Linked DNA regions of Homo sapiens. Each later gene encodes a partner of the first gene's protein in a complex. Each region holds a gene or a part of one and is shown on either strand. Other genes may lie near its edges.

Region 1 (8,283 bases):
GGATCCATAGCTGCGTGTCTTCCACCCACTCCCTGTGGCAGACACAGCGAGGCTGAGCAAAACCCGTTGACTTGAAGGTCCCTAGCACATGAGCAGAGGGCCCTTTGAGCCCTCTGCCTGAGTAGTGGTGAGGGGCAGCTTTGCCACCAACCCACCAGAATCCTCCATCCCTTGGGGTGTGAGGCTCCAAAGCCACACCCACTATGCTGCCTCCACAGGGATCTTGGGAATGGGTAGGTGGTAGACAATTTCCACCTTGGCAACGGGCCTCTGTGAAATCATTCCCCACTGTTCCAGATCTTACCCTCCTAACATGCTGAAGACCGATTTATGGTTGTTGCTTGATGTGAACAGTAGGAACTACCCACCAACTTACGGGGTGGGAAACACAGGACATCATGAACCTTGTGCGAGCCAGAAAGAGGCAGATGTGTGTATCGGGGTGGAGAGGTTCATGAAGGTGTGTGCCTGCGTAGGCCCCCATTTCCCTTTTCCTCATAGCCTTACCAACTGTGCTGTCAACTTATTACATAAAAATAGATGAAAAGGCATGTCCTTTTATCAATGTGGCTGCAGAAGAAAAAAGCAAGAAAAGGAGATCATGTTGGGCAGGGGTGCTCTGCTATAGCAAATTCTCAAGGAAGGCCTGGAAGAAATGAAAGGAACCAGGAGAATATCAAGGGGAGAACATCTTTGGCAGTGAAAACACCAGCTGTCAGGGCCCTGTGGTAGGAGAGTGAATGAGGCATTTCAGAAATAGCAAGTGAGGTCCCTGTGGATTCAGCACAGTGAACAAGAAACAGAATAACAGGAGATAAGGTCAGGGATACATCGTAGGCCAGATCATGCCACATCTTCCAGGCCATTGTAAGGATTTTTGATTTTAGTCTGAGATGGGAAGCCACAAAAGAGTTTCTGGCAGAGACTGGCATGATCTGACTTATGACTTAGGGGCTGTATGGAGGATAGATTCTAGGAGCAGAGTGGAAGCAGTGTTTTCAGATAGGAGGCCACTGCAGCAGTGCGAGTGGCCACCAGTGACTAGGAGCAAGATGGTGGAAGCAGAGGTGGTGAAAAGTGGTTGGATTTGGGAAAGAATTTGAAGGTGGAGCCAAAAGAATGTGACGAAGGATAGGACACATGCTGTGAGAGTGATCAAAAGGAATGAAAGGTGGTTTGAGTCCCTAGTAAAAAGGAGAATACGGGGGATGAGCAGATTGGGGAAGGAAGAAATTGTGATTTAGTTTGAATATATTGAGTTTGAGATGTCTATTAGATATCTTCATGAAGATAATGAGGAAGCAGAAGACTATATGGTCCTGGAGTTTAGTGGAGAAGACAGGGCTGGAAATACACATTTGGGAGCCATCAGCACATAGGTGGTATCTAAAGCCATGAGATTGGGTGACAGCATGCAGGAAATGAGGGTAGATTGAGAAGAGGTCTCCCACCACCCTGCCAGGATCCAGCCATATGTAAGTTCTAGGAGCTCTGTGATACTGGGAGGAAACCCCAGCCAGGAACAGAGGCAGAGTGCCTCCCCCCACACTCCCAAAATCCACGATGTAAAAGCTTAGGCCTTCTCCCAGCCACTGCTCCTACTTTCTTACCTTGGGGGTAGTATGGCATTCAAGATTTCTTCTGCCTGCTTTGTAGGATCTGGGACACAGGGAGTTGAGGGGAGCTTGGTCTTGGGTGGCTGTGGGGCTGAACCTGAAGGTCCAGGCTGCTGGGGGCTGACTTTCAGTAGCCGAGCCTGAGATGAAGGCACAGGTGAGGGCAGGAAATTGTTCAGGAGCTCAGCTCCACACATCCCCAACCTGTATATTGCTCCAGGTCTTCTGCACAGCCCTCCCCTCTTCCTAGCCTACTTTGGGTCGGTCTTCTCAGCAGAAATTATGTCACAGAGCTGAAGGAGGCCATGAAGTCTGGCCCCAACTCAATGCTTGAACAGGTGTTTCTGGCGCATGTGCTTTCACACCTCTGGTGATGGGGAAATCACTACCTAGTCATCTGTTCTTGGACCCGCGTACCATTAAGAAGAGTGAGCCCCATCCATCTCCCTGTGACCTCCTTCCCCATCCTAAATCTGCCCTCTGGGGTCACACCCAACATCTGGGCTTCCTATACAATCCTCTCACCCTCCTTCTCTGACTTCCCAATTCCCTTTACTCCCAGTCGCTGCAATCCCCGTCCCTTGAGATTCCTGACCCTCCATGCGGGAATGTGTCTTTCCCTATCGGAGTTTCGAGGCTCCTTTGTCTCCCGAGCCCCCGTCTTTACCTTGGGGCTCCGTTTCTCCGTGTTCCGGCTCACCAGCACTGGGGTGTCGTACTTGAGCAAAGAGTCTGCGGGCGGAATCATGGCGGAGGCGAGAGTAGCAACCCAGCAGCTGCCCTGTCCAGTGTGGGCCTTGTTTGCCGTCACCATGGAAACCGCCCCCTCACTCCCGCCCCCGCGCTTCTTGGCCTGGGCGGAGCTTCGAAGTGGGGCGGGGCCAACAGCCGGCAAGTTTCATTCTGTGCCTCCTGGGCAGAAACCTCTTGTGCCTGACTTCTTAGGCCTTCTGCTCACCGGTTCGTCCCTGTACTCTTGGAGGCGAGGAAAACGGCAGTTCGAGTCCCTATGCTCCGTCTAGCTAGCGATTTGAAGTGGGCAGATCACCTTTGCCATGCTCCAATTTTGTCACCTGAAAAACAGGAGTCATCTCCTGACTTCTCATGAAGGGTTAAGGGACAATTCCCAAAGGAAGTCATCTGGAGTTCCTAGGTTTTTTGAAGGTTTTTTTTGTTGTTGTAGTTGTTCCCAAAATGTGTTCATTGAGATTGTTTCCCACTCATCTTGATTCAGAGTGCTTTTAGTGCTGCTTCCTCCTGAAGGAACATCCTTCTGTAAGCCTTACTTTTCCTCCTGTAGGCTGGCAGAGGACAGTGGAGCAGCCAACACACAAAACTGCCGTTTGTGCATGGCTAAAGACTGTGGTGATTTTATAGCATCCTGGGCATTTCACATCCATGAAGTAGGAATTGGGGCTCTGCACCAGGCGTTTCTTCTTGTGTTTCCTCTTCTCCTCTTCTGGGGAGGGATGAAGGAGATCCTTTGCGAGAGGCATGTTCTCGTGGGTAGGTCGTCACCGCAAGAAAGGGCTTGTTTTGATTTTTAAATTGAGACGGAGTCTCTCTCTGTTGCCCAGGCTGAAGTGCAGTGGCGTGATCTCGGCTCACTGCAACCTCCGCCTCCCGGGTTCAAACGATTCTCCTGCTTCAGCCTTCTGAGTAGCTGGGACTACAGGCGCGTGCCCCCATGCCCGGCTAAATTTTGTATTTTTAGTAGAGACGGGGTTTCACCACGTTGGCCAGGCTGGTCTCGAACTCCTGACCTCGTGGTCCGCCTGCCTCGGCCTCCCAAAGTGCTGGGATTACAGGCGTGAGCCACCGCGCCCAGCCTGAAGTATTTTTCTAATTAAATGGAGAAATGACAAAGTAGGAGCCAATGGGAAACCTCCCCTTTGCCCCCTGAAGATTCGCTCAAAAATCAATTCACAAAAGGCAGATTAATTGGAGAAAAGGCATACAAATGTATTTAAAATGTATACACGGGGAGAATCACAGTATGATTACCCACCCCGAAAAGGGTTCAGAAGCTTATATACCCTCCTGGTAAAACAGGTTTGTGAGGGTGGGAGAAGGAGGAATTCTGTTCAGGGATTACTAGGCAGAATGAATGAATAAGGGAACAGAGATAAATTTGTAAATAGTTTTTTGTGTTTTTTTTTTTGTTTTGGTTTGGTTTTTTTGAAGACAGGGTCTCACTCTGTAGCCCTGGCTGGAGTGCAGTGGTGCCATCACGGCTCACTGCAGCCTCCAACTCCTGGGCTCAAGCGATCCTCCTGTCTCTGCTGGGACCACAGGCACGAGCCACTAGCCCCTGCCAAATTTAATTTTTTTGTAGAGACAGTCTTGCTATGTTAGGCAGTTTGGTCTCAAACTCCTGGCTTCAAGCGATTTTCCTGCCTTGGCCTCCCAAAGCGCCGGAATTACAGGCTGCAGCCACCGTGCTCGGCTGTAAATAGCTACTTTTGACAGTATAAGGGTCTCTGGTCAGGTGTGATTACATTCTTGGGTGGAGAAGAAAGAAACAATTATTCCTTTTGGTAGTCTGGATCTTAGGCAGATAAAGACCTGTGCTTTGGGAGAGATGATGGGCACTGGAAAGGAACATTGAGGCTTCTTCAGTTCAGCTTGTCAGTGAGCCGTATTTTGGGGTTTTGGTTTCTGAGCCCCAACAGCATTGCAGAAAGTTCAGGAAATAGAAGAGGAAAAGCTAATGATTTGAAAAGCTAATGATTTGCCCATGGGTTATCATCTCTGATTGCATTTCCATTTCTTCCTCCCTTCTATTTCCAAATGTAAATGTAATTATAGTTTGCACACAATTTTGTATCCTGCTTTATCGTTAACAAGTCAGGGTTTTTAAAGTTTGTAAATGGTTTACTAATGGCCACATAACACCCATTAATTTGGCTAACTTCCCTACTGCTGGTATTTACATTGTTTCCACGTTTTGTAATTACTAATAATGTGGCAACAAACAGCCTTGAGAGGTTTGCTTTTTCCCAGTTTTTGTTGTTGTTTGTTTTTGAGACATCTCGCTCTGTTGCCCAGGCTGGAGTGCAGTGGTGAGATCCCTGCTCACTGCAACCTGCGCCTCCAGTTCAAGTGATTCATTTGCCTCAGCCTCCCGAGTAACTGGGATTGCAGGTGCGCGCCACCACACCCGGCTAATTTTTGTATTTTTAGTAGAGACGGGGTTTTGCCATGTTGGCCAGGCTGTTCTCTAACTCCTGACCTCAGTGATCCGTCAGCCTCGGCCTCCCAAAGTTCTGGGATTACAGGCGTGAGCCACCACTCCCAGCCAGAAGTTTGTTTTTGAAACTTGAAACTCCCGCCACCCAAGCCTGTCGCTGCGGCCACACCCACTAGGGAGTAGTCACGTGTTTAACCTTTGCCGCGAGGATTTCTGGGAGCCTGGGCACCCCGGAAGCGGAAGTCCAGGAGTTAAACTCGTCATTTCCTCCAGCTAGAGGAGCTCAACTGATCTGTTTTCTTTCGCCCAGCCAAAATCACAGAATGAAGGCGGTGAAGAGCGAACGGGAGCGAGGGAGCCGGCGAAGACACCGGGACGGGGACGTGGTGCTGCCGGCGGGGGTGGTGGTGAAGCAGGAGCGTCTCAGCCCAGAAGTCGCACCTCCCGCCCACCGCCGTCCGGACCACTCCGGTGGTAGCCCGTCTCCGCCGACCAGCGAGCCGGCCCGCTCGGGCCACCGCGGGAACCGAGCCCGAGGAGTTAGCCGGTAAGTGGGGGAGCAGTCCAGGATGGACATTGGGTTGGGCTCATTCAGAAAGGCGGGCAGGGCTAGCGTCCGAAACAGGTTTTGAATGGTGGGCGCAGCAGCCCGGACTTAATCCTGAGGGGCTGTTGAGAGTGATCCAGTCGTGCTTGTGTTATGCTTGCTCTGTCACTTGCATTATAGCTCGGTGTTCAACGCCTAATGACTAACCGGCAGGATCCCACTCCTTCATTCTTGTGTTCCTAGCACTTCGAAGAGTGTGGCCCAACAGATAGCACTGATAATCTGTTAAATTGGATTGAGATTTTCCCCATCCCTCCCACAAATGGAGTGTGGGCGTTGTCTTTCCGGTTACCTGCCAGAAAGGTTTTCACATCGAGGTCTAAGCGAGCTACCTAACAGAAACTGGGGAAAAAAAAAAAGTTACTTCTTGCTAGACTCATTTATTTATGCATTCATTCACCATAGTTTTACTGAGTGCCTATTAAGTGTTAAAGACTGCCCTAGGTATTGGGGCTGCAAGGGTGATTCAGTTAGATGATCTTCACCGATGCCAAATTGGCTATGCTCTAACCCTGAGACATGATAAAAAAATAAACAAAATAGTTTCAGTTAGTAACAAGTATTATTGATAGATTAAAACAGTAATGTGATAGTGAGAGATTGGAGAGAAGAGGGAGGAGGACTCTCTAAAGAGGTGCCATTTGAGCCCAGACCTGACTGATAAGAATGATCCAACCTCTTAAAGATCCAGGCAGAGGAAACAACATCTGCAAAGAACCTGAAGTAGAATGAATTATGATTGAAATGGGAAAAAGCCAGTGTCGGTGGATTATAGTGGTCAAGAAGGTGGGTGGTAGGAATGAGATGGCACAGGGAGGAAGTAGAACCACAGGATGGAGGGATTGTTATTGATGGTAGGGGTGTTGGTAGTGAAGGATAAAGAGTCAAGGGTGACTTACGGATGGTGATGCCAATCAGCGAGATGGCAAGGAGTAGGAGAGGAAAGGTTTTTGAAGGGTTGGGAATTAAGAGTTATGTTACCTAAGTGAGAAGGTTCAGTAGACAGTTGTCTATGTGAGTATGGAATGCAAGGGAGATGTTAGGGCTAGGAAAGTGAACCTCGTGACTCCTTTAATGTGACCGGCAGAGACCTTCACAAATGCGGTGTTTGTGTTAGTAGGTAAGCCTGATACTGGAAGCTAATTTTTATGGGGGAAGGGAAATTGCGATAAAATCCTGTGTACCATGCTCTGAATAGGTCCCCACCCAAAAAGAAAAACAAGGCCTCAGGGAGAAGAAGCAAGTCTCCTCGCAGTAAGAGAAACCGAAGTCCTCACCACTCAACAGTCAAAGTGAAGCAGGTAAGTGGATTGGGGTGTTTTGATGGGTCCAAATTGAGAGCCTTTTCCTATCACAGCTAAAGAGGAATGTGTGTGTGTGTTGTGTGTGTGCACACATGTGCACGTACGCTCGCCTACATCTCTACTTGTACCTCCGATGGGCTTTTCTGAAAACTGGCTGTATTTATTTTTTCTGCTTGTTTGCTTAAATTAAACTTTTTATTTTGAGATTATTATTGGTTCACATGCAGTTGTCAGAAATAATTCAGGGAGATATACTCTTCCTGGTTTCTCCCAGTGGTAACATCTATTCATAACAGAACTGTGGTACAATATCATCATCAGAATATTGACATCGATATAGTCAAGATAACATTTCCTTCACCGCAAGGAATACCTCGTGTTGTCCTTTTGTAGCCAAACCCACTTATCTCCCACTTTTATCCTTCCTTAACTTCTGTCAACTTCTAATCTGTTCTTCATTTCTATAATTTTGTCATTTCAAGAATGTTATGTAAATGGAATCATACAGTATGTAACCTTTAGGATTGTCTTTTCTCACTCAGCAGAATCCTTTGGAGATTGATTCAGGTTGCATCTCTCAGTAGTTTGTTCCATTTCATTGCTGAGTGGTATCCAAATGGCATGGATTTAGCCACTTACTCATTAAAGAACATCTGGGTTGTTTCCATTTTTTGGCTATTACACATAAAGCTGCTATATAGACATTTGTGTACAGGTTTTTATGTGAACGTTAAGAGTTCATTTCTCTGGGATAAATGCTCAGGAGTACAATTGCTGGATTGTACGGTAGTTGCAGGTTTAATTCTTTTAAGAAATTGCCAGACTGTTTTCCAGAGTGGCTGTATTAGTTTACCTAGGGCCACCATAATGAAATACCATAGAGTAGGTGGCTTAAACAACAGAAATTCATTTTCTTGTAGTTATGGGGCTAAAAGTCAAAAATTAGGGTGTTAGCAGGTTTGGAATCTCCTGAAAAAAAATCCTCTGTCCTTGGATTGCAGATGGCTACCTCTTTGCTATATCCTCAAATGATCTTTCTTCTGTCCTGTTGTCTTTTCTCAGCCATATTGGATTAGGGCCCTACCCTCATTTTAACTTAACCAGCTCTTTAAAGACCTCATCTCCAAAAAGTTATTAATACATTCTGAGGTACTTGGGTTTGGTACTTTAACATGCTAATTTTGGAGGGTACAATTTAGTCCGTAATAGTGGCTGTATCATTTTATATTCCCACCAGCAATGTATGAATGATCCGGTTTCCCTGTATCTTTATCAGCATTTCAAGTTATCACTTTATTTTAGCCATTCTGATAGGCGTGTAGTGGTATTTCATTGTGATTTTAATTTGCGTTTTCCTTTTTTTTTTTTTTTTGAGACAGAGTCTGGCTCTGTCACCCAGGCTGGAGTGCAGTGGCACGATCTCGGCTCACTGCGACCTCCGCCTTCTGAGTTCAAACGATTCTCCTGCCTCAGCTTCCCGTAATTTGCATTTTCCTAATGGCTTATGATATTGGACATCTTTTCTTTGTGTGTCAGTGTGTGTGTGTGTGTGTGTGTGTGTGTGTG
Region 2 (7,829 bases), on another chromosome or scaffold:
GTGGGCTGGAAAGAAAGTGGGATTGGTACATTTTAAAAAGGGAAGAGACAAGGGATTAGAAATCCTAGGAAGTCAGAATAGATATAAGGGTGCCGATTCTCTAAGGAGAGAAACTAGGAAGCGTTTTGGATTTGTATTTCCCCTGAGCTCTTTTTTCAAATGAACAACTAGAGACATTGTTGAGAACACATTACTAGGAGAAGATCCTACTATATGTAAACTTGTTGAAAATTATTCTGTTAAATATCATTCCCCAGTTTAAATATTAAGCACTCAATAAATACATGTGTAGGTTTAACATCCAAAAGTGATAACCAGCTTTAACAGATTCCAGATGTTTCCTTACCAATAGAAGCAATACCACACGTTTTCAGTAAAATTATACTTTGAACGGCTCATTGCTTAAAGGGCTGGTGGGCTAGTCTAGTTTCTGATCCTACTGCTTAAATGGAAGAATGACCAAAGGATAATAGAGTACTTCAAGCACACCCTGATGAAAACTCATGTATCAAGAGTACACATTTTTGAATAGATAATGATATCACACTGACATCCTATCTGGCTGGCAGCTATACCCATTATAACTCAAACTGAGCAGTGACTTTCCTTTAAATATAATTATCCCTTTTACCACGTTGTAGTTTTTCAGTACATTTGGAGCTTTCCTGTGTTGTTTTATTTTTTAACCATAAAGTTAACTTCAGAGACTCGCTGGTATAAATAACCAAAAGTACTAATGATTTGGAAATTTATTAAAATTTATTTTTATTTTTTTAGAGACAGGGTCTTGCTCTGTTGCCCATACAGGATCATAGCTCACTGCAGCCTAGAGCTCCTAGGCTCAAGCAATCCTCCCACCTCAGCCTGCTGAGCAGCTGGGATTACAGGCATGAGCCACCATGCCAGGGTCTGATTTTGGCAACTTTATGAACTGAAAAAAATACGTGGTCATGAGACAATCATGGAAATTTCTACACTAGAGGAAAAAACTGTTTCTTCCTTTTGAAATTCTGTACTTTCTCCTCTATCCTGACCTTATTTTTCTTTTGTTTCTCTTTGTAGGTAGGACAGATAGGATGAAGGAGGGAGAGTAGAGAATGTGAATAATGAAAATGTGGGGGAACAGAACAGTTATAAATAAATGTGTGCTGTCTGCACCATTTACAAAGGCACACTTTGCCAATTATTTTACCTAAAAGAATCCAACAATGTCCACAATACTCATGTTTACCTAAAATATTCAAGCCACCTTTGGAGACTTCTTATTTAATTTACTTTTCTAAGTAGAAAAGTATTTAACGTACTTTTTAAATTTATTTAATTTTCTTAGTAGACTTGCAATGCACTTGAATATAACTTTTTCCTCTACAGTGAATATACAAATTATGTGATTTTAATTTTGCAAATTATACTGATTTATAAAAAGAGAAAAATTGTTTACATAAGTAAGTGGATATATATGTTCCTATGTAAGAAATTACCATAAAAACTAAGCTTTAAATGTCTGTTAAGTCATCCAGTCTATGGTATTTTGTATAATAGCCCAAAACACTCCTCTATCAATCCATTCTCCATACTAAATACAATCTCAATATATCATTTGCCTGTAAAAACTTCAGTGGCTCTCCAGTATTCTCATGATAGATCAGATTCCTAAATCTAGCTATCAATGCCATGTTTGGTCATCAGGCCCATACTACAGCCAAGGAAATCTTTTAAGAATAACCCTTAATTGTAAGAGTGAACACAATTTTGGAAAATGCAAACTTTGACTTTTCTTAATATTAGGTAAACAATTTTTTAAAGACACTTATGAAAGGTACATTAAAAATGAACTTTAGTTCTTATACAAAATTTAGCATTGCTAAATTATAGTTTATATTATAGGGTATATAAGTATTTGAAATTGATTAAAGCCTACAAGACTGAGTTGGGAGTTTAAGGAACACTTAAATCTAACATAAATAAATATTTGGTTGGCTCATCTATTAAAATTTTTAAATATATTTTTGTTACATTATAAACCTAACCTTTAAAAAAATTCATAATTTTTTAAAATCAGAAAACACATGCCTTGAATGAGAGGAATAAAACATTATGTATCCATAATTATATTCATGATTTAACTAAAAGTTACAGTGTGAATGAGAGGTTTTTCAACTCTATGAATCTAGAAGCATGCATATGATCACTAAAATCTTTAGTCTATATTAGCTACTATGTATGGTATATATAATATAATCTAGTATGTAAAATTATTCAACAGTGATTACTTGAGTGTCAGGTGAATATTGCTGGAAAAAAGACATTTAAGATGACTCCTAAGTACCATTTCTAAATGTTAAAAGCTATGCTTTTAGTGGAAATTTCTGGGAATCATTTTTATTTGATTACATAAAGAAAAAATTGAGGGAGCTATGCAATGATAGCGTGGAAATCCTTTTTAAGTTTTTCTACATGTGGTTGAGAAACATGATAGGGAAAAAGAATGTTATTTAAATGTAGTTACATTCATATTATCCCCAAATAGTATTTGAAGAAAACAAATACTATTGTTTTTTAAAGCAATATTATTTAAAATGTATACTATAAAGTTGAAATAGAATCACAAAAGAGATAATTTTTCAATTAAGTTGAATTTCAGGAGAATAAAATGTTGAGTCATAAATCCAACAAACTTTCATCACCAGACAGTAAACTTTTCACCATTTGCTGAAATTTATTTTATGATACTACTGAGCTTAGGATAGGTATATGGTATTTGGTAAATCAGACTTGAAAAGATATTTAAGAATGTTTTCAGGCTCACTCATTTTCTTCATCAGTTTTGACAAATTTTGCTTACCGAAATTATTTGAGGATGTCTCTTTTCTTTCTATACAATTACTCTACTGCTCTCATTGGTATTTAACAAATGCATTCTTCCACATCTAGCTAATACATTATTACCCTATATATATGAAAGTATAGAGCCTTTCTAAAAAAGGATCAGAGAGAAATAAAATGGAATTGAACTCATAGGATCATTGTTATGTTTACTTTAAGCTTGGTGTATTTTATTTTAGGCCTGCTAATGGGCCAATTTGTACAACTGTTATGTTTATCAAACATTATGAAAATAGTATTTTAAAAATTAGCTGAAGAGAGGATTCAATCTGAATTAAAGTGAAATATAAAAAGACAAAAACTCTGATATCTAGCACAGTAACTGACTCACCTGCGGCTGACTGATTTCTTCTCCACTTCTCCTTCTCCAGCTGATTTAACATTCGCACTTGTGTCCTTTTTTAATTTTTTGGCAATTCTTTCTCTCATCAGGTTCTTTTCATCACCATCAATATATTCATCATGCTCTGCACTTTCATCTTCTCCATCCTGTAGAAATGGAAAATGAGTATTTGCCAGGTGCTCAATTTCCCCTTTCATTTCTAGAGATCTATTGCATCCACTGAATCTCCTTATTGCATTCTAAACTAGGTTTTTTTTTTTATTTTGTTTTCTTTTGTTTTGAATTATAAGCCCTTGAAGAATCTGCTACAGGTGGGAATAGCCCTGGGTTCTGCTCTAAGCCAACTATGTAATTATGGGATACCCCAGGAAAGGCTGTTCGCTCAACTCATGCCCAGCTCCTTTGTGCAGCAGACTTCTCCCTCTGTGTCACTCGGGCTATTCTGTCTATATTCCTATTCTTATCTCAGTGGGAAATGTGGCTTTTGAAGGCAGTTGGCCAGCATACTGACCTCAACAGGGATCAATTCAAGTAGAAGAGGTGTAGTGCAGAAGCTGAGATTTCTATAATCCAAGTCACAGCAATCACTTCTCTTGTGAAAACCCTCTAGTGGGTCCCCAACTCACTCAAGGCCCTATGCAATCTAAACCTCCCTGACATAATCTCCTACAACTCCAGCCCACCAACACTAGCCAACTTTGGAGTTGTTGTTCTCTCCAGCCTGAAACAAATACTCTATTCCAGATATCTCTTCATTGCTTGCTCTTTCATCTCCTTCAGATCTTTGCTCAAATGTTACCCTCTTGGTGATGAGATTAACCTATTAAAATGGTAGAACCACACACTTACCTCCAGTACTCTTTCATCTTCCCTGGCTTATTTTCCAAAGTACTTATCACCTATCTGATACACCATATATTTTAATTATTTGCATGTGTATTGTCTGTCATCCAATTACAGCAAACACTCCATGAGAGCTAAAATTCTGGCCTGTTTTGCTTACTGCTGTATCTTCAACTCCTAGAATAGTGCCCAGCATTGACAGATGGAGGAACAAAGGGAAGAAAGAGGGGAGAGAAGAAGGAAGAAATAACCCCAAGTGGATCATTTTTCTTTTGTGATTCTTTCTTTGATCTGGTGAGTCGTAGTGAAGCAGGATTCTTAATTTGAGACTTGTGGACCCCTAAAGCACTGGTCCTCAAAGTCTGGTCCTTAGATGGTATTACATAGTTGTTTATTAACACCTAAAATTCTAGCCCTCATTGCAGACTTATTGAACCAAAATCTCTGGGGTAGGAATTACGAATGTTTTCAACAAGATGTTTAAGTAATTCTTAAGCACTAAAAGGTGACAACCACCAACCTAGGCCTTCCATGCTCAGGCCTCAGGAGATCTAAAAAAAATTCCCTGCAAATTCATATAATTTTGGTTGTGAATGTAGTACATTTTCCTGGGAAAGGATTCACAGTTTTAGTCACTCACCCATGATATTAAGAGCAAATCTATACTTTTACTTTCTATCCTATACATTGATCCTAACTTCTAGACCCATATTATGTTACACAGATGTCTCCAAATTACCTCAATCTTGAAATGTATAAAATTAAGCTCATTATTTTTCATCCTTTTCTCCACCTCAACCCTATGCTTTCTTTTGCACCCATCTAACAAGTTGCTCAAACCAGAAACCTTGTGGTTGTCTTGGACTACTCCTCCCTCACCTCATAGTGTAGAATCAGTCACCTCCTAGACCTCTTTCAAATCTACCTCTTTCCCATCTCACAGCTGTGGTCTTATATCAAGCTCTCCTCCTACAATAGCTTCCCAGTATCAGTCTGTTTCCTCTAATTTGTCCTCTATAATATCGCCAATAGTGATCTTCCTGAAATGCAAAATTGATCATAGCATCCTTCTTTTTAACAAACACCTTTCAACTGTTCCTCACTTCCTTTTAGGAAAAAACTCAAACCCCTCACCATGGCCTATGAAGCTCTGTAATGAAGCTCTGGCCTGTCACCACACCCTGTTCACGCTGGCCTGCTTGCAGCTCTTAGAACACACCAAACTCTCCTGCTTCGGACCATTTTGTATATGCAGTTCCCCTTACCTTCAATACTCTTCTTCCTTGCTCTTCACAAGACAGACTCCTTGAAACTTTAAATTTCCGTTTGTATTTCCTAAATAAGGTATGATCTCTCCTTATTTCCATGCTTTAGCATATGCTATTCTCTGAGCTAGAGGGACCTCACCCCCTTCATCACTTTCTTTTCTGACTTAGCTAACTCCTAACTCTCATATAAGACATAAATAGCATCATCTCTTCCAGGAAGCTTTTCTTGACAAGGTCAGATATTCATCCTCTCTCTATCTACTACTGATAGCCATAGAGAGCCTTCTCTTTTGACTGTGATAATAGATAAATCTGTGTTCATGCATGGAAAGTTATGTACTTCCTAGTAAATTATACAATGCACAGATTAATGGGTTTTTATATAAAAAGTGGCATATGTATAATTTGAAAAACTTGACTCTTATGTATTAAAGGAAAATCTTCCTTCTGTTTTGTTAGCTTTGTTAGCCACTACAACTAATAAAGATCACTACACTCTTGAATGAGAATCTTTTGAAATGTGTATATAAAAAGGAGACACTACTATAAATTACTGATCCAAGCATTTCCCATATATCATGTAGGATGCCCACACACCAATATTTAAACTTTTAATACAATAAATTTATAACATCTGAAGTTTGAGTATTAACGTAATGTTATGTGAGGGGGAGAAAAAAACAGACTAGAAATTCATATATAAGATTCTAATGTTGTAGAGAGATATACACACACACACACGCACACCCCTAGAGTAAGGAAATAGTCTAACACCTAAATAATTTCTGTTTTTCATATTTTTCCAAAATTTGACATATATAACTATAAAAGTAATATACGTTACTTTTTAAGAACAAAATTAAGTTTTTGTAAAAATTTTGTACTTTCTATGAATTGTTCAAACTATATTAATACCAAAATAAATACTTACATCAACTAAATCTGGTGCATCACCTTTTTCACTATAAAAAAAATAAGCAAAACAAATTTTAGTTTCAAGGTAAAACTAACACAATTATTTTGTAACCCAAAAATCTAGAATAGTTTGCTGGGAATAACATTCCAAAAATGTATTTCAACATAGGAATTTAAGAAAGGCATTATAGAACAGATGGAAACATTCTTTAGAGTCATTTTTTATAAGTGGAATAAGTATGATTCATTAGCAAATATATGCGTTCACTAGAATTTGAAAGGAAAAAAGCAAACAACAACCGACAGTGTTATTTTTATGATCAATGGTCTGCAAAAAACAATTTCTTTTATTGGCTTGAAATATTCTGACTAAAAAAACCCCCAAATCCTTCAAATAGAAGGGTATTAAGAAAAGATTGTCTTAAAACAGGAGTTTCGAAAATGAGCTAAACTGAGTACAACAGCATTGTAGTGCCCCTTGAGATACTGGCCCAGTTTATCTTGTGCTATTACATCTAACACCAAGACGTTTTCCCTTCTCAAAGAGAAGCAACAAAGGTAGCAAGACAACTTTCTGTTAACTCCTCAAAGTATGTGAGAATTTATAGTCAGTGGACTGGCCCCCAAACTGGTAACTTCTTCACAAAAACCTTTAACTGTAATTTGTTCATTCATGATACAATTAAGGCAAAAATGCTTCAAGGAAAAGGTAGCAAAACAACCTTGAATTAAGCATTACACTGTTAAAGCAAACAGTTTCTAGTCCTAACATGTAATGGTAAAACAATTTTAAATGTAATTCATTCAACAGAGGTAGAGAGCAAGTGCGAAAGTGACTAGAGCGTTTGTTTCTCTCTATCAAGCTTGAAGTTCTCTATCTCTGTTATCAAAATGCTTTATTTTTTTGGCTGGCTTAAAAATTTTTGACTTATGAGGACTGACTGTTTACTCACAGAAGAAGCAAGAAAATTATCTGAGCCAGAAAATTAAGAACTTAGGATCATACCAACAATGGACTAACCTTTCTACAACTGGAACAGAACTGAGATGTGGATCATCCTTAAGCAAGTCATGACTACTTTTGCTTTTGCCCTTCATGCTCTGCAAAGAATGTACAATATAATCATGAGGGGGGAAATAAACAGTATTCCTAAATAACAAGTTAACAAATTTACATAAAACCTAGCAATGATATAATATGGTTAGCAAAAGATGTATTCCTGAAAAGTTTAATACAAACTAAAGTTTTATAAGTAAGAATCTTACTCTTCTATTGACTGAAAATAGTATTTTAGAAACACCTTTTCTTTCAAAAAATGATATATCATTTAAAAGAAGTCTGTTGAATTACCAACTTGAAGCACTAAATTCTCATAATAATTTGCATACTATGAAACTAGTTAATTTTTATGACCCCTATAACTTAGAAGCTACATCACAAGAGTATTGAAATAAATGCATGCTATTATTCTTCAAATATGCCACCTATACTGCACAGAATCACTTTTTAAAATGTTACTCAAGCAAAAGATAAGTGCATCCCCGAGGAACTACTTACCAACAACAACAAAAAA
Region 3 (7,829 bases), on another chromosome or scaffold:
AGAGGGCTGTCTTGGGGTCTTCGAGCTCTGGAGCCAAGGATGGCCTGGTCCTACTTCTCTGCCCCCACCAATGGGGGACTTGAATGTGGCCAGAGAATACAGTCAGTCAGGGCCAGCCAGGGTGTCTGTCAGGGTGGGCACAGGGTCCTCTCCAAACCTGCTTCTCCCTCCCTGGTCAGGCCTTCATCCCCACCACCCGCACCTGTACCCTGGACGCTGGCTCAGAGGCCTACAGGTGTGTGGACACCTGGGCAGTCACTGTGTCCTACTGTGCCCCTCCTCTGCAGGCCCAGCTTGGTGTCTGAGCCTCTTACAAGCCAGTTACTGCCAGGGCTGCACCAGGCCTTGCGGAGGACAGTGCCTGGCGGGAGGGATGGAGGGCGTCAAAAGTCACTCTAGAGCCCAGGGGCCCGACCAATGGTCACAGACAGGGATGACAGGCTGCAGAGGGATGGGCTGGAGAAGAGAAGGAGCCAGCCATGGCGCAGTTCTTGTTCTTAGCATGATGAAGGGCCACAGATTGGTGTGCAGCAGGGTGACGAGGGGCAGACATACCTCTAGTGGTCATCAGGCAGCCTGTGGCAGTGGATGGGGTGAGGCAGAGATGCAGATGAGGCGCCACCCAGCATCCAGGGAGACAAAGGGCTCAGGCCTGCAGCTTCAGCATCAGTGATTGATGAGAAAAGGAAGGGCAGAGGTACAGCCTGCAAGTTGCTGACAGGTTCAAGATTTGGGGCAACAAAAATGAGAAAACCAAGAACAAGGCCTAAGTTAGGGCTTAGTGTGAAGAACTAGAAGTGGGGGGTGGCCTGAGGGCAACAGGGAGCCCAAGAGGCAAGTGTCAGGCAAGGAGAGTCCATGACATGAGAACACTGACCACTGGCCTGGGCTGAAGACGAAGAAAAAGCCAGCCAGGGGCACATTTAACAGAAAAATGGGGGTTGAGGGAGGGGTCTTTCTTTAAGGGCTGCTGATGCAGCTGGCCCAAGGCCATCAGAGTCAGTGACTGACAGGAGGAGCAGAGTCTTGGAGCCCAGTGGCCGGGCCTGAGAGCAGCAAGGCCACTTCAGCAGGAGGGCGGGGAGAGGGACATCCACTTGTTCTCACAGCAGGAGACACTGGCCTCAACCCAGTGTGGGTCCCCTCAAGATTCTCACAGGGGCACAGAGACGCCAGGCAGGCTTGAGATGAAGCCCAGGTGGTTCACAGCCAGAGCAGGTGAGCAGGGCCCTGAGAGCTCAGGCAGGGCACGGCAGGAAACTCAATGCTGCCGTCCAACACCAGCCTTCAGAAGCCCCTGAAGTTTTGTCAAAACAGACCGAGAAGCCCACCCTGCAGAGGCTTAGGCTCAGTAAGTCTGGGGTCTGAAAACTTGTCCCAGGTAATGGCGTTGGTCAGGGGACCACACTGGTTGTATAAATAGGCTGTCCCTGAGAAGATGACAGAAGTAGGGGTAAGAAAACCAGACATATACAGCTGGATGTAGTGGTGCACGGCTGTAGTCCCAGCTACTTGCGAGGCTGAGGCAGGAGGATTGCTTGAGCCCAGGAGGTCGAGGCTGCAGTGAGCCATGATCACACCACTGCACTGGAGCCTGGGCAACAGAGCAAGACCCTGTCTTAAAGAGGAAACCACAATCTGGAGACACAGTCCTTCCTCACTAACCTGGCCTGCCTACTAGAGGGGAGGCCTGAGGCACCAGCCTGGGTGTAGGGCAGGCCTTGTGCTTGAAGGTCCCAGCAGTGGGCTCTGGCTGGGCCAGGTCCTGGAAACAGGGCCAAGGCCCTTGGCAACAGGTTAAGGGATGGGAAGGCTGTGGGCTCCCAGGGGCCAGGAAAGGGGATGCAGGCAGCAGGCAAGCAATTTATTGGCTGGCAGCAGAGGGCAGGCTAGAAAGGCTGGAAATGGAGATGTGGACATGGGCCCCCAGCCCTGCAACCCCACCAAGGTCCACAGCGGCCAACCTGCTGCTACCAGGAGCTGAAGTCCCCAAAACCCCGACTGGGCTTCTTCTTGGACATGGGGACAGTGGCACTGGTTGAGGGCTCTTCCTCTGCTGCTCGCTTCCTGGGAAGAGAAGAAGCCGCTGGGAGCCCACACCCTCCCTCAGCCCCTCCTGACTTGTCTGTGTCTCCATACAGCCCTCCCGGTGTAGGCCCAACCCCTCCCACCTGCTGCTCCCACATCCCCCTGAATTTGATCTCTTCCACCCACAGAGGCCCCGGCCAGGCCTTCAGAGGCAGTCCCTCGGCTGCAGAGGCCACACAGCACAAGCCCACGGCCGGGACCAGTGCCCATAGCTTGCTTGCCCCTCTGGGTCTGACCCTCAGACCTCAGTCAGCCCTAGGAAACACCATGGGAAACAGGGAGGCCAGCCCCGCGGCACTCACGTGGCTGCTGGGTTGATGTACTTGCCCACGCCCTGGCGGAAGGTCTGGGGGCCCTGGCTCCCTGCCTGGGGCTGGCTGCTCTTCACTTTGGTCTCCGGGGCTACCTTGAGCTGTGTCTTCCGCTCCTGCGCAATCTGTGGCACAACAGGGCGCTGGCTAACCGGCAGCACCTCGGGCAGGACAGATGCTAGGCTTGGGGTGGAAAAGTGCACTAGCCCAGACCCTCCTAGGTGGTGGCATCGTGCCCCCTCACCTGGGCATCGGCCTCCTCATAGGGGTCCACGAACACTGTAGTGGCATCAATGCGGATCTCCTCCTAGCAGCAAAGGGGGCTCAGTGCACGGCAGGTCCTCCCCCTGCCTGCCTGGCCCCCAGCCGCCACGCCCCACCTCCCTGGGCACAGACCTTAGGGCGGTCAGTTTTGGGGTCACTCTCCACATTCTCCATGGCTGTCAGTACGTCAAAGCCCCCAACAACCCTGCAGCAGGGAGACAGAGGTGGGTCTGCGTGTGCTCAAGGAGGGCACCCCCACGGCTGAGCCCCAAGGCACGTGGGAAGAGGGGTTGAGAGCCCCGAGGCTGGCCTGGTGGTCCTTGGGCAGCAGCCAGGAAGGCGATGAGAGGGAGTGGCAAGGGCGGGGTCGGCTGACCATGGCCCTGGGCATATCCAGCTGGGTTTTTTTCTGTTTTTGTTTTTTTTTTGGTTTCCCCCACCCACAGGAAAAATAGGAGTCACAAAACGTGGCTTGTGCTCTCCCCGCTGGTTTGGTAAACAGAGTTCCACTTGGCCAGAACCACATCACCTGCGTCCACCCTGTTTCGTGCTGCTTCCACACAGCTGGGTGGGCGTCAGAGACCACGTGGCCCACAACGCTGGAAAGACCCCTGGACTAGAGGGTGAAGGGAGCTGGGTGTGGCCAGGCTTGCGAGTGGCGCGCCACTGGGTCTGAGACAGGGCAGTGTCCAGGCCACATGGGCGAGTTTCCTCCTCTCCTGAGCCCGGTGGGTCTAGAGAGCCAGACTTCCCTGGCACATGGAGCACCCTCCATCGCAGCTCTGCATAGCCTCAACCCCCAGCAGTGATGGCCAGCATGGCACATGACTCAGGTCCACGAAAAAGGCAGTGAGGAGGCCTCAGGTGGGGAAGGAACCCACCTAGCCCACTGACCCCCCAGGCTTCACACAGCCGCTTCCCTTACCGTCCAAAGATGGTATGCTTCTTGTCCAGGTAGGCACAGGAGCGAAACGTGATGAAGCTGGGGAGGAGGGCTGGATGGTTAGGGAGAGCATGGCACCTTCTGCACCTGGCCTGCCTAAGAGCACACCAGGAGCTGCCCACCCTCTACAGCCAGCTCTGGGAACCTGCAGCTTCCACGGACGCATGTGTGCACGTGGTTCCCTGCGCTGCCCACCAGGGCAGGTCATTAGCCCCCAAGGCTGCCCAGGGGACCCCGGAACTCCAGCTGTCCCCAGGTCTTCCTGCTGCCCCGGCTGCTGCCCACTGCCTGTCAGGTGGTCCCTGTGCCCAGAACCAGGTTGGCCATGCAGCTCTGTGGGAGGTGGCTGGGACGAGGGGACACCTGGAAAACCAGAGCCAGCCCCATGTCATCAAGGGACCTGTTGAAGGACTGAGGAGAAAGGAGGCAACAAAGCCAGAACAGGAGTCAAGGGATTAAGAAACGTGGGTAACATAAATAAACATGGACTAAGAAAATGCTCAGGTCGTCCAGGCACAGTGGCTCACGCCTGTAATCCCAGCACTTTGGGAGGCCAAGGCAGGTAGATCACTTGAGGCCAGGAGTTGGAGACCAGCCTGGCCAACATGGTAAAACCCTGTCCCTATTAAAAATACAAAAATTAGCTGGGCGTGGTGGCGTGTGCCTGTAGTCCCAACTACTTAGGAGGCCAAGGCAGGAGAATCGCTTTAACCTGGGAGGCAGAGGTTGCAGTAAGCTGAGATCACACCACTGCACTCCAGCCTGGGCGACAGAGTCTGTCTCAAGAAAAAAGAAAAAGAAAAAAGGAAATGGGGTGGAATTAAAACAGCCAACAGCACTGCCATGAGACGAGGAGAGAGTTTCTGCCAGCCTGGTCTGGGAGGAAGGCAGAGACTACCTCATAACTTTGGACTTTTTTTTTTTTTTTTGAGATGGAATCTTGCTCTGTCCCCCAGGCTGGAGTGCAGTGGCGCGATGTCGGTTCACTGCAAGCTCCGCCTCCCAGGTTCATGTCATAGTCCTGCCTCAGCCTCCTGAGTAGCTGGGACTACAGGCGCCCGCCATCACGCCCAGCTAATTTTTTTGCATTTTTAGTAGAGACGGGGTTTCACTGTGTTAGCCAGGATGGTCTCAATCTCTTGACCTTGTGATCCACCTGCCTTGGCCTCCCAAAGTGCTGGGATTACAGGCGTGAGCCACTGCACCTGGCCAACTTTGGACTTTAAATAGATGTCCTTCTTAACCTTAGACCAGAAGTAAAACATCTAATTTCCAAACCAGCAGAAAGAGAAGAGAAGCAAATGAAAATAAATATAAAAAATGGTAACTAGAAAGCAACAAGATCATAGAACGCAACAGACCACCTGAAGAATTAAGTCCACATTTAAGATTGTCAGGATTGGCCAGGCACAGTGGCTCACGCCTGTAATCCCAGCACTTTGGGAGGCCAAGGTGGGCGGATCACAAGGTCAGGAGATCGAGACCATCCTCGCTAACACGGTGAAACCCCATCTCTACTAAAAATACAAAAAATTAGCCAGGCGTGTGGCGGGCGCCTGTAGTCCCAGCTACTAGGGAGGCTGAGGCAGGAGAATGGCATGAACCTGGGAGGCGGAGCTTGCAGTGAGCCGAGATCGCGCCGCTGCACTCCAGCCTGGGGGACGGAGCGAGACTCCGTCTCAAAGAAAAAAAAAAAAAAGACTGTCAGGATGAAGGAGAACACGACAGACCCCAGCTGTGAGCCTTCAAAAAGCCCTCAGAGGGCAGAGCCAGAGAGGCTGAAAAGAAAACGATGGAAGACATGGGGTGGGTCCCGGCGCTGGCGGCACGGAGCACTCCCCAGGGTGGTGCAGGCAGGCACAGCCCACAACCCGGCTGGTGAGACACAGGACTTAACCTCCACTGCATCAAACATGCACCCCCCAGCCACGCAGGGACACGCTCCTGAGCCCACCAAGTCTGACCACACCCGAGGCCACCAGACAAGTGTCCGCAGATGTGACATCTGCAACGGTGCAGACCTGAGCTCTGACCTGCAAGCAGTTCCCTCTCTTGCTGATTTCTAACACAGTGAAGGAAACTAGAAGCAGAATTAAACTCAGATAAGAGGAAAGTAAAAGAACCATCCTGAGGCAAGCTCCTCCTAGAAAATCTTTTTTTTTTTTTGGAGACGGAGTCTCGCTCTGTCACCCAGGCTGGAGGGCTGGAGTGCAGTGGCGCGATCTCGGCTCAATGCAAGCTCTGCCTCCTGGGTTCACGCCATTCTCCTGCCTCAGCCTCCTGAGTAGCTGGGACTACAGGCGCCTGCCACCATGCCCGGCTAGTTTTCTGTATTTTTAGTAGAGATGGGGTTTCACCGTGTTAGCGAGGATGGTCTCGATCTCCTGACCTCGTGATCCGCCTGCCTCGGCCTCCCAAAGTGCTGGGATTATAGGCATGAGCCACCGCGCCTGGCCTCCTCCTGGAAAATCTTTAATTACAAGAATCACAAAAGGGAAAACAAAGCTGTAACAAATTAAAGTCTAATGATCTTTGAATACGGTAAAATAGGCAAACCTTTGGCAACAGTTGTCCAAGAAAGCACAAAATACTACTAGAAATAAGAAAAGAAGGCCGAGTGTGGTGGCTCATGCCTGTAATCTCGGCACTTTGGGAGGCTGAGGTGGGTGGATCACCTGAGGTCAGGAGTTGGAGACCAGCCTGGCCAACATGGTGAAACCCTGTCTCTACTAAAGTACAAAAAATTATCCTGGTGTGGTGGTGGGCGTCTGTAATCCCAGGAGAACCGCTTGAACCCAGGAGGCAGAGGTTGCAGTGAGCCGAGATCCCGCCATTGCACTCCGGCCTGGGTGACAAGAGTGAAACTCCATCTCAAAAAAAAAAAAAAAAAAAAAAAAGAGAAGGTGGCAACTGATCTGTCAGCAGTTTCACAGGCTGGTTAAGCCAAAGAGAAATAAAAAATAATAAAATGATTCCCTGCCCTGGCCCCTGCCAAACAACAAAAACAAACCACGCACCCAACCTACTTGAAAATAACCAACAGTCCTAGGCAATCCTTGGCTGAGAAGAAATTGAAAGGGAAGCTACCAACAACCAGCAAGCAGTGAAGAGGGAACATGCACCCTCAAAATGACAGACGTGGCTATCAGAAACACACATGGATTAAAGTGAGGAAGGAGGAAAAGCACCATGAAGAAGCAAAGACAGAAACTGAAAACAATTACAAACCCTTCAAAGTGAAGTGAAAACAGACAAACCCTTCAAAGACCACTAAGGGACTGAGGAATGGAAAGTGTGATTAGGCATGAGAAAAAAAGGTCAGCACAGCGAGGCCAAGAGAATACCAGCCTTCATGGAAACAAGTGCCCGTTAACCCTGAAATGAAAGCCCCAAGGAAGTGGCACGAATAGCTGCCAGCTGCCTTTGCCCAGCTGTTAAGCACAGCTGACTCGTTTGATTTTTTTTTTTTTTTCCAGACAGGGTCTCACTGCTGCCCAGGATAGAGTGCAGTGGCGCGATCCTAGCTCACTGCAGCTTTGACTTCCCAGGCTCAGATTATCCCCCCACCTCACCCTCCCAAGCAGCTGGGACTACAGGCGCACGCCACCATGCCCCGCTAATTTTTTTTATTTTTTGTAGAGATCGGGTTTTGCCATGTTGCCCAGGCTGCTCTCGAATTCCTGGGCTCAGGCAATCCACCTACCTCAGCCTCCCAAAGTGCTGGGATTACAGGTGTGAGCCACCACGCCTGGCCATCCCTGTGATTTTAACCATTCCAGGCCACAAAGCCACAGCCAGCCCTGCTCGTAACATGCAGGGGCCACACCTGTCACAGCAAAACCTGCTGGAGCCAGTCCACACAACCGAGACCACGTGTGACAGTGAGCTGGCAGAAGGCCACGGCGAAGCCACGACAGGCCAGGGTTCACCCCAGAATGCCACGGAGACACCCATCCACTCTGGCCTTGTAGTGGCCACATCCACAAATCCCGGGAGGACCAGAAAAAGGACAGAATCATCATAGTAGATGCTAACAAAGAAACCTCTAAAAAGTCAGCCACCCTCCTAAAAACAGCCCAACAACAAATGTTCTGAGAAGGCAAAACAGCGATTTCTGTGGAGCACAGCAAGATGCCCACATCCTCCTCCCCCATCAGGCCCACGGTGACGTGACGGTGACGTGACTGATGTGCACACCAGGGAAGCAGAGAGCAGACCAGCTT
Region 4 (7,829 bases), on another chromosome or scaffold:
TATTTGAAATTTGCCAAGAGAGTAGATCTTAAGTGTTCTCACCAAAAAATTTAAAAAGTAACTATAAGAGATGACTGGTAAGTTAATTAGCTTGGCAGTAGTGAATATTTCACAGTGTATATTAAAACATCATGTTGTATGTTTTATACAATTTTTATTTGCCAATTGTACCTCAATAAAGCTGGAAAACAGTATGTCAGGTCATTACTCTGCTCAAAACCCTGCAATTGCTTCCCTTTTCACTTGTAGTAAAAGCTTTATCTTTAGGTTAAAGGGCCATACATGATCTGGCCACTACTCTTCCCACCTGCCCTAACTATTCTGACACCTCATCTCCTACTTATCCCCTTCTTTCTCATACAAATCCAGTCATATTGGCCTGTCTGCTCTTCCTTGGGCCACACTAGGCATACTCCCATTTCAGAGCCATGTACTTGCTGGCCCTTCTGTGTGGGATGCTCTTCCCCCAGAAATCCACATGGTTTGCTTCCTTACTTTCTTCAAGTATTTCTGCTAACAGCACCATCTCAGAAGTGAGGGCTATTTGACCACTCTCACCTTCTGGCAATTTTATATCCTCTTTCCCTGTATTATTTTTCCTCCACAGCAATTATTACCTTTTACTATACTACATGATTAATTTCTGTCTGTCTACACTCACCAGAATGTTGACTGTTATATCCCATCCCCCTACCCACTGTCTAGCAAAAACACTTTGTGTCTAAAAGAGAACCTTGCACACAGCAGATGCTCAATATGAACTAAATAAATGAAAGAATGAATAAATGTACCAGGTAAGAATTTAGTAATGAAAAAAAAATAACCACCCTCACAAAATTTCTTGAATTATACTTAGGACTCGACTTCCCACTCTAATTGAATTAATACACCAATGTAGACCACTAAGTAAAGTCAGAGAGAAAATACTGGCAGATTTAATGATGAGAAATGCATTGGAGCCTACAAGATAGAAAAACTCTGGATTACTTCACCATATGAGGGAGCTGAATTATTCTGTTAGATACCTAATTTCTCTTAAGTTTTGAGATTAAGATAAGAGAAAATCAAGCCTATCATTTGAGTAATAATGCAATTTTGAAAAGTACACTGCTCAGAAGTTTAAAAATTTCTGGTACAGTCCCAAACTGAAGACCCACTTTTTTCTTATCTCCTGTTGCTTCAGCTTACTAAGGCAGAGATTACTCTCCATTTCTACACTATATCTGATGTATCTAAATTTTGTTTATATGTACCTACTTTATATGCAGTAGGAAAAAGATTTTCTAAAATAAGATATATTTTGTTCACCAAGCAAAATTCAATTCAGTAATGAGAATGTCATACCTTTTTCCACATGAGTTTTGATCCCAGCTCTTCTCTCCCTGGCTTTCTGGGCCATTTCTCTAAGTTTCTCTTCATGTTTTTCCTTTTCTTTCTGAGCCATTTTTCTCTCTACTTGGGCACGCATTTCCACAGCTTCACGAGCCTGTTGGTAAAGTCACATGTTAAACAGGACACTATCATGGGATAAATATTTATGGCTATCATCCAACTCCCTAACATCTGGCTGGTAAGAGCAATTATACAGAATTCAGATTTGTTATTGCTAATTAAAACAAAGAGTCTTGTCCACTAAAAGATATCCTGCCTGGAAGACACTGCAAGGTCAGCTTTTTTCTCTGGGAATATTTTAGTGATTGAAACTATCGTGACCCCAATTAATCTTGTAAGTCAAGTATTTCACTAATGCTTTCTCAGAAACAATCTAAAGAACAAAATTAAAGCCAGGCATAGTGGCTCTCTCCTGCAATCCTAGCACTTTGGGAGGCCAGGGTGGAAGGACTGCTTGAGCTCAGGAGCTTGGGACCAGCCTAGGCAACATAGTGAGATCCATCTCAAAAAAATAACATTTTCAAAATTAATAACACTTTCAAAGTTAATCAAGTCAACTCAAGATAAAATCTTAACTTACATCTGCTAGATAATTTTTATAAGGGTACTCACTGTGATACAAAAGACATTTTTTTTATGTTCCAAACACATGCTATGATGCATGTGAACTTCAATATCACATATTAATTCCATAATATTTATATTTACATATATTTTTTGAGATGAAGTGTCTTACTCTGCTGCCCAGGCTGAAGTGCAGTGGTGCGTTCTTGGCTCACTGCAACCTCCACCTCCTGGGTTCGAGAGATTCTCCTGCCTCAGCCTCCCAAGTAGCTAGGATTACAGGTGCATGCCACATCCAGCTAATGTTTGTATTTTTAGTAGAGATGGAGTTTCACCACATTGGTCAGGCTGGTCTTGAACTCTCAACCTCAAGGAATCCACCAGTCTTGGCCTCCCAAAATGCTGGGATTATACACATGAGCCATTGTGCCCAGCCTAATTCCATAATATTTAATACATTATGTAACATTAATAGATGGCCAATGCTATGAACGCCATTTTATGTACTATTCAATTCATTAGAATGTTTATCTGCCTTTTCCTGCAACTGCCCTTTTGGGGGACATCTACATCTAAAATAGAGGAAAATTTGAAATCAAAAATTATGAAACCTAGCAATCTTCAAAAAATGGGATCATCCTAGGAAACCATTATTCTGACATGTTGTGAGGGAGCCGGATCACCACTGTGGGGTGTATGTACACATCTACAAAAGCTGGGAGCATGCAGAGAGCTGCCAACTAGCAGCTGCCATTTCTGACACACGTACCATGGGTGAGACTCTCTTTGGGTGCTCGGTACTATAGTTAAATTATCAGTACCTTAGGTAACCAAGAATGGATTTTAAAAGTAACAAGAGCATTAAACAAATTATAACAAACCAACCTTCCGATCAGCAATGTAGAGGGCTTCTGCCAATTTGGCGAAATTTTCATTTATGTGTACTGTCTGTAGTCCTCTTCCATCAGCAGCCAGACGTTTGTCTAATGGAATTGTATAACCCTAGAGTGAAAGCAGACAGAAAACCCAGTCACAGAAGTGCTTCAATTAATCGTCTGAAGTTAAATTAATTTTATTTTTTTCGAGCTGGAGTCTTGCTCTGTCACCCTGGCTGGAGGGCAGGGGTGCCATCTCGGCTCACTGCAACCTCTGCCTCCTGGGTTCAAGCGAGTCTCCTACCTCAGCCTCCCGAGTAGCTGGGACCATAGGCGTGCGCCACACACTCGGCTAGTTTTTCTATTTTTAGTAGAGACGGAGTTTCACCATGTTGGCCAGGATGGTTTTGAATTCCTGACCTTGAGTGATCCGCCCTTGGCCTCCCAAAGTGCTGGGATTACAGGCATGAGCCATCGAGCCTGGCTAAAATTAAATTTAAATATGCCCACATTTTGAGAACCACTTAACTGGAGGTTCTTTTTCCTTGCATCTTTCTTCACAATGATGCAAAACAACAGCAGCTATCAATGAGTGCTTTATGTAGAAGATCAAGCACTTACACCTATGGTCTCATTTAACCTTCACGATAACTCTATAAAGCTTCTAACATTATTGTGTCCATTTCACTGATGCTTTGGTAACATCCCCAAGGTCATACAGTTAGTAAGTGGGCGATTAGGATTTAAACTCAGCAGGATTTCAGAACCCAAGCTCTGGAAAAATAGATATTTGTGTTAATAATTGTCGATTTTAATAAAAGGAAATCACTGTCAAACAGTTCAACAGTTGCTCCTCAAGTAAATTTAACAGTCAAACAAAGGTAGAATCACTATAATCTTAGCATCTATAGGAAGTTAAATCTGCTGTACTGTCTTAATGATCTGTTATATTCTTAGAATCCTGAAGTTTTAGTAAATAGAAAAAAAAGGCTGGGTGCAGTAGCTCAAGCCTGTAATCCCAACACTTTGGGAGGCCAAGGCAGGTGGATTGCTTGAGCCCAGGAGTTCAAGACCAGCCTGGCAACATGGTGAAACCCCGTCTCTACCAAAAATACAAAAAAGTAGCCAGGCATGGTGGGGCACACTTGTGGTCCCAACTACTCGGGAGGCTGAGGTGGGAGGATCGCCTGAGCCTGGGAGGTTGAGGCTGCAGTGAGCCATGATCATACCACTGTACTCCAGCCTGGGCAACAGAGCGAGACCGTCTCAAAAAAAAAAAAAAAAAAAAAAAAAACCAAAGAAAAAAGAAAAAAAAATGTTTGCTAAACAACTGAATTTCTACATTCTAAAACTTTGCATCCCATTTCAATAACTCAAGAACTGTACTTGAATGTCTATGTAACTTTCAGGCTTAGCTTTATTTTCCAGATATCTGACTAGTCTCTCAAATGTTGACTTTTAGTCCATGGTCTCATAATAAAATGAAGCATTATAGAACCAGCTCAAGATACCATCCAGTTACAAAATACCAATCAACTCAAATCAGACCAGTCGGCAACCTCTTTGTTTAGGGTGAGTATATAAATTCTCTTAAGAAACCTGAAATGGTCTTCTTTATCCATCAAAAATAAAATCATGAACTATGATTCAGGGAAGATGAAACAGTAACTAGCAAATCTATCCCACAATCTACAGATTCTTAACAACTCCTAGAAACTTTGGCAATTATTAGAGATATATAGCTTAAGCCTTCACTACTACAGAGCCCAGTAGTTGAATATTAAAGCACTTAAAGTATCCAAGCATTTACTCTGTTCTTTTGTCATATAATCTTTTACATCAGTTTACTTTCTTTTAGAAATAATTTTTAGATATAAATTTGAGTTTTCTAAATACCATCTTGTATTTATATGACACTTTATTCTACTTATTCCTTCTCTATGTGCTTCTGCTAGCTACAATTCACTAAAAGAACTGATATGGGGCCGGGTGCGGTGGCTCACACCTGCAATCTAAGCCCTTTGGGTGGCCGAGGCCGGCGGATCACAAGGTCGGGAGATCAAGACCAACCTGGCCAACAGGGTGAAACCCCGTTTCTACTAAAATACGAAAAATTAGCCGGACGTGGTGGCATGCGCCTGTAGTCCCAGCTACTCAGGAGGCTGAGGCAGGGCAATCGCTTCAACCTGGGAGGTGGAGGCTGCAGTGAGCTGAGATCATGCCACCGTACTCCAGCCTAGTGACAGAGCGAGACTCCGTCTCAAAAAAAAAAAAGGAACTGACACGGTATTCACGTGCCTGGCATACTAACATTTCTATTACATTAAAAAAGTCACCAAATTGGGCATTCCTTTTTGAAAATGCTCAGTTAAACCACGTGTTGTTTCAACTACAGTTATGCAGGCTGTAGTTGTTTTACTGGTGTTTTCCAGTAGGTTATACTAATAGAGACTGATTTGACAACTTAATTACCTTTGCATTTTTCCAGTTAGAAATACAAGGAGGAATCTTCCACTCTTGTTGTTCCTTTACAGTCATCTGAGAGAAGAGGGAAAGAAGAGACAAGTTTAGATTTATAGTCTACAAAGTAAATCTAAGTATAATCTTTATCTTCAAAGACAGCTCCATATACACTGACATATGCACAGCCGTAGTAAAAGGCCAGCAGTCCATTTGTTTGCTAGCACTAGTTTACCATATAATTCTAGTAATAACTTTGAACTAGTGTGAAAAATGGAAAATAATCTAGAAATTATTCTTGACAGTTATAAATGTTGGCTAGTATTTTTCCATATTTAAAGTGATGTGACTTTTTTCTTTTTTTTATTGAGACGGGGTTTCGCTTTTGTTGCCCAGGATGGAGTGCAATGGTGCAATCTTGGCTCACCACAACCTCCGCCTCCTGGGTTCAAGTGATTCTCCTGCCTCAGCCTCCCAAGTAGCTGGGATTATAGGCATGCGCCACCATGCCCAGCTAATTTTTTTTAAAGTAAAGACGGGGTTTCTCCATGTTGGTCAGGCCGGTCTTGAACTCCCGACTTCAGGTGATCTGCCCGCCTCGGCCTCCCAAAGTGCTGGGATTACAGGCGTGAGCCACCACGCCCGGCCGATGTGACTTCTTTTGGATGAAAAATTGTTCTTTTGATTAACAAAACATATCTTAAAAAGTCAAATTACCAGGGACCTAATGAACCCATATATTCACTTCCTATAACATCCTTAAACTGAAACAGCAGACCCTGTCCATTCCATTAAAAGTAGGGTTTGCATTACTAATAACAAAACTTACAGCTAACATGTTATATACATTCTCATAAGCATTCTTGAAACTTCATCTTGAAAAATAAAAAAAGAAACTACAAGTCAGTGTGGTGACATGCACCTGTATAGGCATAGGGAGGTTATCTATAAAATTAATAACCATGAGTAGAAAAAAATATTTTGGACTACAGCAAAGAATACCTTTCGGCTAGGAGAATGCATGACAGGCGCAGGAGGAGAAGGTGGTCCCCGGGGAATTTTCTTATTAATCCTGAAGTATAAAAACACAACCAGAGAGTGATATAGTTTCCTCCCTTTTAGTCATCATATCAAGTCTCTCCTCCTTTTTCTTGCATAAAAGTTTCAAACATAGACAAAAACAGAGACTGTATAATGATATACATTTACCACTCCACTTTGACAATGAATAAAACATGGCCAACTTTGAAACTGTTACTCACCCCACCTCCACAACATTATTGTCATTTTGCAGAGTAATATACTTTTTTCCACTTTAAAAAGCAGCTTTAGGTCGGGTGCAGTGGCTCATGCCTGTAATCCCAGCACTTTGGGAGGCCAAGGTGGGCAGATCGCCTGACGTCAGGAGATCGAGACCATCCTGGCTAACATGGTGAAACCCTGTCTCTACTAAAAATACAAAAACTTAGCTGGGCATTGTGGTACACGCCTGTAAACCCAGCTACTCAGGAGGCTGAGACAAGAGAATCGCTTGAACCCAGGAGGCAGAGGTTGCAGTGAGCTGAGATCATGCCACTGCACTCCAGCCTGGGTGACAGAGCGAGACTGTCTCTCAAAAAACAAAAACAAAAACAAAAACAAAAACAAAAAAAGGCAGCTTTATTGAGATAATTGACATTTATTAGCTATACATATTTAAAGCATACGATTTGATTAAATTTTGACACAAATATGCACCTGTGAAATCATCATCACAAGCAAGATAGTGAACATGTCTATCATCCCCAAAAGTTTCTGCTTGCCCCTTGCCTATTCCTCTTGTCCCTCCCATCTCCTCTCTGTCCCTACCTCCTTCCCCAGAGGCAACCACCTATCTACTTTCTGTAACTATAGGTTAGTTTGCATTTCCTGGAGTTTTAGATAAATGGAATCATACTGTATGTACTTGTTTTTGCCTGGCTTCTTTCACTCAGCATATTGTTTTGAGATTCATCCATGTTATTGTGTGTATTAGTAGCCTATTCCTTTTCACTTACTTGAACCTTGGAGGCTCCATTGGATCTTTCTGCATTTCTACCATCCGAATAACCCTCTGTTTAGCTCCAGAGTTGAATGCCACTCCTTGCTGAGATGGTGTGTATCTGAAGAAAGCAGATAAAAACTAAAGGTGTAATTAGTTCAAGCTTTCAGTAGGTATTTTCCTTCTATTACAATCTTAAGCTAGACTACATTTTCAATTCCTTTCGCAAAGTATTAACAGAAAATTAACAAAATATTTAGACAAAGCAGACAGCAAGAGGGATAAAAGAACATAAATTATGAGTTACAGTCAAAATATAAACTTGAGTGGTATTAGTTTGCAAATAACCCATCCTCATATGTTTTCCAACATGGAAGGTGCCGTGTTCAGTTTCACAGATAAGCAGTCTAGAAAATAGTACCTATTTAGTATGCCTGCATCTGAGGAAAAAACACTCATAATAATCCCAGCAGGCAACTTACGGTTAGCAGTTTTTGATTAATCATAGGTTATAAAAC

Evidence for each region.
Region 2: SNIP1 (region 1) and CWC27 share a complex: the UniProt entries of both Homo sapiens proteins name them as parts of the minor spliceosome.
Region 3: SNIP1 (region 1) and PPIL2 share a complex: the UniProt entries of both Homo sapiens proteins name them as parts of the minor spliceosome.
Region 4: SNIP1 (region 1) and SNW1 share a complex: the UniProt entries of both Homo sapiens proteins name them as parts of the SNARP complex.

What each region holds. Positions count from the first base shown.
Region 1 is NC_000001.11:37,551,076-37,559,358, reverse strand, and holds the start of SNIP1 (smad nuclear-interacting protein 1), read left to right. Parts: upstream 1-5,065; 5' UTR 5,066-5,129; coding exon 5,130-5,353; intron 5,354-6,611; coding exon 6,612-6,714; intron 6,715-8,283. Other genes in the region: DNALI1 (axonemal dynein light intermediate polypeptide 1), read right to left, coding at 1-32, 1,611-1,756, 2,284-2,364. UniProt on the Homo sapiens protein: Required for pre-mRNA splicing as component of the spliceosome. As a component of the minor spliceosome, involved in the splicing of U12-type introns in pre-mRNAs. Down-regulates NF-kappa-B signaling by competing with RELA for CREBBP/EP300 binding.
Region 2 is NC_000005.10:64,799,775-64,807,603, reverse strand, and holds part of CWC27 (spliceosome-associated protein CWC27 homolog), read right to left. Parts: intron 7,357-7,829; coding exon 7,277-7,356; intron 6,303-7,276; coding exon 6,272-6,302; intron 3,376-6,271; coding exon 3,218-3,375; intron 6-3,217; coding exon of another isoform or gene 1-5. UniProt on the Homo sapiens protein: As part of the spliceosome, plays a role in pre-mRNA splicing. Probable inactive PPIase with no peptidyl-prolyl cis-trans isomerase activity. As a component of the minor spliceosome, involved in the splicing of U12-type introns in pre-mRNAs.
Region 3 is NC_000022.11:21,689,632-21,697,460, reverse strand, and holds part of PPIL2 (RING-type E3 ubiquitin-protein ligase PPIL2), read right to left. Parts: intron 6,077-7,829; coding exon of another isoform or gene 5,968-6,076; exon of another isoform or gene 5,283-5,967; intron 3,646-5,282; coding exon 3,589-3,645; intron 2,869-3,588; coding exon 2,796-2,868; intron 2,707-2,795; coding exon 2,644-2,706; intron 2,525-2,643; coding exon 2,391-2,524; intron 2,068-2,390; coding exon 1,971-2,067; coding exon of another isoform or gene 1,865-1,970; 3' UTR 1,595-1,864; coding exon of another isoform or gene 1,309-1,594; 3' UTR 577-1,308; coding exon of another isoform or gene 422-576; 3' UTR 1-421. UniProt on the Homo sapiens protein: Has a ubiquitin-protein ligase activity acting as an E3 ubiquitin protein ligase or as an ubiquitin-ubiquitin ligase promoting elongation of ubiquitin chains on substrates.
Region 4 is NC_000014.9:77,729,644-77,737,472, forward strand, and holds part of SNW1 (SNW domain-containing protein 1), read right to left. Parts: intron 7,433-7,829; coding exon 7,328-7,432; intron 6,364-7,327; coding exon 6,294-6,363; intron 5,370-6,293; coding exon 5,304-5,369; intron 2,959-5,303; coding exon 2,842-2,958; intron 1,487-2,841; coding exon 1,345-1,486; intron 1-1,344. UniProt on the Homo sapiens protein: Involved in pre-mRNA splicing as component of the spliceosome. As a component of the minor spliceosome, involved in the splicing of U12-type introns in pre-mRNAs.